Regions from separate parts of the Homo sapiens genome. Here region 1 is linked to region 2. A link means that fine-mapping ties the variant in region 2 to the expression of a gene that starts in the linked region. Tissue or cell type: whole blood. Region 2 holds a variant in brackets; the other region holds the start of a gene. All regions are shown on one strand. Distances are between the middles of the regions.

Region 1 (4,394 bases), 88 kb before region 2:
CCTTTGAAACTTGCCTCAGTGGCATTTGGCAGTACTAGACTAACTTCCTACCCCGTACTTTTCAGTCATTTCCTTTAAGGGGTCTCAAAGAAATTATGAAACCTGCAAAGCCAGACTTTGCCAGTCAACACTAACTTCTGCCTGTGGATTCCAGTGACTGAGCCAAGACAGTGTTAGTAGCTTCCTTGAAGTACAAATGTTCCTGGTAAATCTGGCTTGAAAATACCACAGAAAAAGTTCAACATAACCAACTGTAAGAACATTTAAATGCCAATCTTAAGGAAAGAATGGATTCCCTCCCCCTACAAATTCCACTGAGGCAAATTTCCAGCTTACTTTTTAGAAGCAAATAAATACTACTACTATTACATTACAGCACTTCTACCATGCTAATAAAAAGCTAGGTGATAGTTTCCTCTTTAAAACCTGTACATTCACTACATGAGACACTATAACCACTTCACTACATGCAACTTTCCATACATATAACTGTTCTACTTTCCAATTATTTATTTTAAACTCAAGATCTCTTTTAACATACTATAGAAAGGGAACAGGTTAGAAGGCTTTGGGAAAAAAAATAAAATAACGAACATCTCACTTTCATTTTCTGATGCAACCACCAAAATCTAAAATGTAAGGACAACTATATAGTACAAAATTAAATTTAAGAGAATTTAGAGTAAGTGAAACTATTCACTATTACTACAGTTCTGATTATTATTTACCTGAGGAAAGAGCTAGTAGAAGTGATGCTTGGTTTAAATTTTTGGTGCTTTCCAGTATGGTACCGAAGAAATAAAAACTCACAAAATAAATAAGGTCCTCAGAGTTAAAGACTTTTCCCCAGAAGAGGTTGTTGGTATAAATAAAAAAAACAAGGAATTCATATGCTGTATTTGTACACTAAGAACAATGTTTTGAGACATGTAAATCTTATCACTCAGAAAATATTTTGTTGGCTATAAAGAAAACGCATCGTAAACTGAAACAGAACTGAATAAAGTGAACCTTTACCACAATTAAAATATTTTAAATTCACCCTATTATGAAAACTTAATAATAAATTCATTTATCCTTAAGTGTAAGAGTAATACATATTCGACACAGTAAAGGACAATGCCATTTCTGAAACAAAAGATCATGTGCAATGAAAACAAAGTAACATTTTGCAGAGTAAGAAAAAGTAAAGAGCCTGTGAACCGAAACAGATGACCTTTTCTTATATATAAAGCTTCAGTTTTTAGCACAACCAGCACCTTATGAATAAAGTTCTCAATAACATTTGTTGATATACTGTTTGATGACTAAACGACAGGAATATTGTTGGTGCTGTTAAAACCAAGGCACATTTCCTTGTGTGTAGTGATTAAAATCTGTTAAATGTACATTTTTAAAAAACCTCTGCCCTCTGTCCCCTTCTTGCTCTCTTGCCTCTAACAGACCTGCACGTACAAAAATAAAAGTAGATGGTGACGTGAGTTTATGATTTACATTAATTTCCCTACTCGGAGCATTTTTCACTAAGTCTTTAGAGGTTTTAAGATTCAAACACTATGTAAGAAGAATTATGGTTTGAACTACGTAACAATTACCTAGACATCTTTTGGACTTCAGTTAACCTGTAAGTAAAATGAGCATCTTTAACTTTTCCACGGGGCTTTGGAGAACGGGTTCTTCCTCATAAACGCTTTCATATACTCAGACACGAGGCGCGGTAGAAGATCAAGCGTATCCATCAATTTGAGAGCTTTTCACGACCTCAGTTTACCCACTTAGGGAAACGGGCGTATTAACTTGTTTCCTAGGGGACCCGGGGGTGAAATTAATTAGCGTGTTTAAAATGCTCTGAGATCCAAAGATGAAAGGAAATGTGAAAGACGCGCAGAGATGATGACAACAATCATAACAATAAAAAGAATGACTAACTTGAAGTCTGCGTTATGTAAGGGAGGAAAAGAAGTTATCAGATCCGCACAAACAAAAGGGAAACCCACCGCCCCTTTTGTTTCTCCCATTTCCCTCTCCTCCCCGCCACCCGCAGAGCTCCCCTCTCGCAGCCGGAGCGCGCGGCCAGCCAGGCGCGGGGCTCGGAGTTGGCCGCCGCGCGCCCCGCTCCCGGGCGGAGGGGGAGGCCGCGTAGGGCCGGTTCCTGACAAAGGCGCTTCCTCGAGCCAGGGCGCGGGATGCAGGCGCCGCAAACTCCGCTCCCCGCCGCAGCGGGGGCGCGCAGGCGGGCGGGGAGAGCCGGCTGCTGGCCGCCGGGGAAGCCGCCGAGGAAGTTGCGCGCCCGCCCTCCCCGCGCCCCTCGGCGGCCCCGCCGCCATCCATCCCGCGGCGCCCCGCGGTCACACTTACCGGACAATTGCTGGTGGCCGGGATCCCAGAGCGGCCCCCGAGACCCGAGGCGAGAGGGTGAAGTGTTGTGCGCGGGGAGCGCGAGCAGACAGCCCGCCGTTCCGCCGCTGCCCTCCGCGCCCGCCAGCCGAGCCCAGCGAGGGGAAGTTGACCACGGAGCCGAGCGCTGAGGAGCCGCGGACGCAGGGAGAGGCGTTGGGGCTGCTTTGTGGTGCGCTCCCGGAGGGCTGGGGACCAATTCGACCGCACCGCGGGACTAGGGCTGCTGCCGCTGCTGCTAGTGGAGGCGGCGGCGGCGCCCCCCGACGGTCCCTCCGCCTCACACCGCCTCTGGGTCACTGACATACACTCGCAAGGAGGGGAGGGGTCTAGCCGGGGGGCGGGGCCTGAGGGAGGGGACCGGGCAGGGCCACAGCGGAAGGCGGTGTCGCCGCACCGAGAAGGCTCTTGGGAATTGTAGTTCTCCGGTTGAAGAAAAAAGGGATTCATTGTTGTCCAGCACCCTACCAGGCTCGCTCTGCACTGAGCATGCTCGAGGGCGAGGTTTGGACCGCCCCCTCCCACCGTTACCATGGTCACCGACACACTTAGCGAACGTGTTCAGTGCTGCTGTTGGCTGAACAAGGACGGTCTTGTATTATGGTGTTGTTGGGGATCCAACCCTTAGACGGTCCTTCCTACTTTTCTCCACCTCCAACTCCTAGCCTTACCAGTCATAAGTACCCAGTGAGGTCTGACTTTCTCTCCATATTTCAGTCTTCCCTGCTGCGTAATTTATCTTCCACAAACCCTAAATCACAAATACCTCTGTCCCTCACTTCCCTCAATTGAATCTTCTCCGGCTAAATTCAATTTTCTTTACCTAAGACTTGTCGAAATGTAGTTGTTTCCAGTAATTGAACAATTAGGTTATAAAACTTAGGAATATCACCACTATCAAAGTCCCGTAATTAATTACTTTGCTCAGTTAGTCACATCTAACTTTAAGATTAGCAAAGGCAAAGTACAGAATTAAGACCCCTATATTTTACTTGATTACTATAAAAGAATCCGGGTTCGTTCATTTTAAGGCCTACAATTTTTAAGACATACAAATTTCATAAAGTATACGTTCAAAAGACAAGTTGAAAATTGTTTATGTGTATTGGCCAACTTTAGTTTGGTAATAAGAGAAGTCTGAACCAAGGTATGAGTATGTTGTTGGGCTGGTCAGCTAAGTCTACACCCATCTTGGGCACCCAGGTGTGGAAAGGTGGTAGGGAGGAGGGTGGAGAAAGGCAGGACACATTACTGGCTCTCCGGAGAGCTAAAGGCAACGCGTCCTGAGCGCTTTTGTTTTCCTTCTCCACCTACCTAGAACCCCACACCCTGGAAGAAAAAGATTAATGCTTAGGAATCAGACACACTTTTGGAGCAAGGCTTTCAGAGAGTCTCAAGATCAGAAATCCTTATATCTACAGACTATATAATTATACACTCATTCAAAAAATGCTTGTTGAGTGTCTACTTGTGCTAGGCACTGTTTTGAGCCCCAGAAATAGAGATACAAAAATGTAAAAGAAACATTCTTATTTTCAGAGTGCTTACTATGCAAAGGAGGAGACAGGTAAATAGACTTAATTTGAGAAGTACTACAATAGGAAAATGCAAAGCTACCCACAGATGTGGGCAAAATCAGGAAATGCTTCAAAGATCACTTGAGATAACTAGGAATTAACATGTTTGTGTATTTTGGTAGGGGAGGAGGAAGAGAGAGGTGGGTGAGAGCATTGGGGGTGGTGTTGGGGAGAGCATCAAGCACAAATACCTAAAGGTGTGAGACCCAAACGTATTTTGGTTCAGCAAATAGTTGCATTGCTGGCAGTAGAATGGAGTTGGGGGAGTGGCAAGAGGAGACACTGAAAAAGGTAAGGGAGACAGCTTAGGTAATGAAGAATCTTGCACAATATGCTAAGGAACATGAACCTTTTCCTGGAAACAATGGGAAGCCACACAAGGATTGTAAGCAGATGGAATTTTGATAAGATAGGCATTTT
Region 2 (4,394 bases):
AACCCGGAGAGAAAAGGGAGGTGAGCCTGCGGAGGGAGATGGGATGCAGCGGAGGGAATTGGGGTGCAGCGGAGGGAATTGGGGTGCAGCGGAGGGAATTGGGGTGCAGCGGAGGGAATTGGGATGCAGCTGAGAGGGGAGCGCCAGTGGGGAGGTTTTGGGAGCCAAGCCATTAGAGGAAGGATCACACAATGTCCAGAGGTAATGAACACAGAACTTTTTAGTTTGTTTTTAGGTCAGAGTCTCATATCCTGGTCTGCACTCGATGGATTCTTAAAGCAATTGGAACCTCAGGCTGGTCCTGGAGCAAGAGCTGGTCCTTTACTTGGGGCTCTCAGGTTGAGAAGTTTGAGCTCTAGGATTCTCCACTGACCACCTCTCCCTGTCTTTGCTCACTTCCCATCTTTAAACTCCCATTGAACTGGCATGCTATTCTTAGCATGGCACTCAGGCTCTTGACTCCACCCAGTCCTTCTAGTTATATTGGCCATGGTACCTACGTTCTTGTGTCTCCTAGCACTGTCTACCTACCCTCTCTCCACAACACATATTACACCCCCAATCCAACCCATAATTCCCATTGGTTTCCAGGTATGCCAGTCTTCTTACGGTTTCCTAAACATGTCATAGTAGGGAAAATGCTACATGTTCACTACCTCATTTCACCTTCCTAGGCAGATGAGAAGACATCTCCCAGTTTCTTTTTGCAGCTAGGTTGGGACACTGACCAAATTTTTGACAACAAAAAAGTGAGTGGAGGGATATGGCATTCTGGTTCAGGAAGACTAAGAGGGGGTCTGAGTTCTTCATGCTTATTCTCTTTTGTCCATATGCTAGGATGTGCAAAACTCTAACTCAGTGGGTTGTAAAATGGAAGCAGGCTGGGTCCTGAATTTCTGTTGCAGGAAAGCTGACCAATTGGCATAAGACATATATATATATTTTTTTAATGAGCAAAAGCCACTGAGATTATGGGGTTTTATTTGTTACCTCAGCCTGTCCTATTCTATCCTAACAGCACACATACCATGCTTTTTCTTATTTTGGCATCTCTATAGTTACATTATGTCACTTGGAATGCCTCCCTGCATTCCTACCCTGCAGCAAATTGCTACTATCCTTGGATTCTCCTCTGTGATCTTATAGCACCATGCTCAGGTTTCTGGCCTGAGTGATTAGATGAATCTTGGCACCAGTAAGGAAAAAGAAAGGGAGGAAGAGGTGTACATTTGGCAGAGAGAAAGAACTCTGTATGTGCACTATGTGTTTGAGAATGGGACATCCAGGGATATATGGATCTGAAGCTCAAGAGAGAGGTCTGAGCTAGAGATAGGTAGAGGGTTGAGAGTCATGAGCATAGGGGAAGAAGTGGGCAAGATTACCCAGCGAAAGTATGTAAATTAAGATAAGAGAGTGGAAGATGGAAAGGTGAATCTTAGTGGAACACCATCCTTTAAAGGAAGGCAGAAGAAGCAGAGCCCTTATAAATTTCACAGAGTCCCCCTAAGGACATTCAGAATTGAGCGTGAAACCTGGGAAAGCAGAACTAGTTTATTGATCAACATTTACAAATGTGAAACTTAATTTTGAGGAAAACAGGGTATACTGCAATTGAAGCTGTTGAGTAGACCCAAAAATGCCTTTGAAGGTGGAATTGCTCACCTTTGTTACTGAGAAAACTCCCGGGCAAAAGTTTAGTTTTGATCATGTTAAAGGTAAATTAAAAGCTGACCTTGGCTTTTATATTCCTGGCTTTCCTCAACCTGAAGTCTTCTGACTTCTCTGAACCTAAAGGAATGAGAAAGTTGCAAGGATTTGTAACCGGCTATTGGAATTAATTGTGCTCACTAGCCTATATTTTGTTTTGCTTTTTTCTCCATGTGTTTGCTTTTTGGATGTAATTCTTAAATTGTCTAAATGGTCACCTTTTGTTGTTGTTATTCTTTAAATGGTACCTGGACAGCTATGATGGGTCAAGAGAGAGAATTGCTTTATACTACAAGGCTATCAGAAGATCACTGAGGTTGTAGTGAGCCGATATCGCTCCACTGCACTCCAGCCTGGGCGACAGTGAGACTGTCGTGAGGAAGGGAATGTGATAATCCAAGAGAGAGATGACAATGGATTGGAACACAGTGGCAGCAGTGGAGGTAGTGAGAAGTGGTTGGATGCAGGATATATTTTGAAGAGGAAGCCAATAAGATTCGGATGTGAGAAAAGAAAAAAAAGTAAGAGGAGTCCAGAAGGACTCTAAAGGTTTTGAATAGAGTCACCATCGACTGAGAGAGTGCAGACTGGGAGTGGAGCTGGCTTCAAAGGGAAGAACAGAAGTCCAAGTTTGGACTTGTTAAGTTTGATACATGAAGCAGGCATCTGGATAAAGGTCTGGAGTTCAAACGGGCGTGGTGGCTCACACTTGTAATCCCAGCACTTTGGGAGGCCGAGGCAGGCAGATCACTTGAGGCCAGGAGTTCGAGACCAGCTGGCCAACATGGCGAAACCCCGTCTCTACTAAAAATACAAAAATTAGCTGGGCGTGGTGGCAGGTGCCTGTAATTCCAGCTACTTGGGAGGCTGAGGCAGGAGAATCACTTGAACATTGGAGGCAGAGGTTGCAGTGAGCCGAGATTGTGCCACTGCACTCCAGCCTGGGTGACAGTGTGGGACTCCATCTCAAAAAAAAAAAAAAAAAAAAAAAAGAGGTCTGGAGTTCAGGAGAGAAGTCTGAGCTGGAGGTGCACA[T/C]TTGGCAGCTTCTGGTGATATTTAATGATTTAATGCTATGAAACCAGGTGAGATCACCAAGAGGGTGAATAAGGAAGAAAAGGTGCCCGAGGGCTGAGCCCTGGGGCCCTCCAAGATTATGAGGTCAGAGAGAAAAGGCTGGACCAGGGAAGCAGTCTAAGAAGGAATGCCTAGTGAATAGGAGGAAAATGAAGAAAGGGTTTGTGCTGGAAGCCAAGTAAAGAAACAAATTCAGAGGAAAGGGAGTCATCACTGTGTCGGATGCTACTGACACACACCTCAGATGTGACCTGAGAACTGAGAAATGGACTTAGAAAAGCGTAGGTCAAGCCGGGCAAGGTGGCTCACACCTGGAATCCCAGCCCTTTGGGAGGCCAAGGTGGGCAGACTGCTTGAGGCCAGGAGTTCAAGACCAGCCTGGCCAACATGGCAAAACCCCATCTCTACAAAAGCATACAAAAATTAGCTGGACGTCTTGGCGTGACAAAAATTAGCTGGACTTCTTGGCGTGCGCCTGTAATCTCAGCTTCTTGGGAGGCTGAGGCAAGAGAATCGCTTGAACCTGGGAAGTGGAGGTGGAAGTGAGCTGAGATTGTACCACTGCACTCCAGCCTGGGCGACAGATTGAGACTCCATCTCAATAATAATAATAATAACAATAACAATAACTGAGGTTCTTATAACACTAATATTATTCAACATCTACAGTCTCAGAGATTCTAGGTCCAGATCGTTGGACTGTCTCTCATTCAGAAGTATAACTCCTTTGAAATAAGGTCCTTGTGAAAAAGGGATGGTTTCTCTTTGATATGGAGATACGGATGTTGTCAACTATTACAGTCTCATATAAAATGCCAATGCACTGTGCTGGTTTAATGTAGTTTTTAGTTGGAAAGTGAGAATCCCCAAATGCATTTTTGGTAGCCAGCTCTGTTGCAAATGATGCCACTGGATGTAGCATTAAGTAACTTAACTCTTAAACTTTGGGCATATTCAAGTGCATAGTACATCTGCCCTCAATCTTGGGAGTCTGTCGTAAAATGCAGTCACAGGGTATATGATATACCACTCTCCAGTATGTGGTGTATTTGCTGAATATTATGTATCAGAAGCTCAGAGAGAGAAAGAAAGAGAGAGAGAGCAGACAATTTAGAAAGCCCAGCCTGCTCTGCGTCAAGGGCACTGCTCCAGAGTTAAATCTGCTTGTGAGCTACCAAACAGCATTTTTCTCATACTGAAAAAAACTATCCTTGTAATCTGCAGTTTGAATGACCTGTTCCTGTGTTTATTCATTACTTTAGATCATCAAGTCAGTGGAAACTTTACACGACCTCTGACTGATGCTCTGCTGTTCCTAGTGGAATCATTGTCATAACTAGCATTTTGTTTGTGGCTTTGTACCTGAGTGCCCATTTTGGACCACTCATGATGTTAGGGGCTTATATCACATCTTTACTTTGCACATCAACTCTATGAGACAGTCATTATCATTTTCATTTTAGAGGCGAGGAAACTGAGTCTTGAAGAGGTTAAGTTGCTTCAGGTCATGGCTGGTGAGTAATAGAGCTAGATTCAAAGCCAGGACTGCCTGCTTCCAGAGCTCATGCCCTTCCTTGTGCCATCTTAGAGTTCTTCCTATACAACTTCTCACT

What was found. PIP is the estimated chance that this variant, and not a neighbour inherited with it, causes the effect.
Region 1: it holds the start of PELI1, and the variant in region 2 is the best candidate, but not a certain one, in a credible set for the expression of PELI1 in whole blood (Lepik 2017, PIP 0.53).

What each region holds. Positions count from the first base shown.
Region 1 is chr2:64,141,723-64,146,116 of GRCh38, forward strand. PELI1 (pellino E3 ubiquitin protein ligase 1) reads right to left here and starts at 2,698. Exons shown (of 7, transcript NM_020651.4): 1 at 2,359-2,698. RefSeq lists silencers at 2,146-2,215, 2,226-2,295, 2,436-2,505, 2,586-2,775, 2,866-2,925.
Region 2 is chr2:64,229,621-64,234,014 of GRCh38, forward strand. It overlaps LOC100507006 (a long non-coding RNA gene), which reads left to right. Exons shown (of 5, transcript NR_120420.1): 2 at 1-20. Among named protein-coding and RNA genes, the nearest start is that of LINC00309, 26 kb to the left of the region's middle. The variant T/C (reference allele first, on the strand shown) is at 2,743.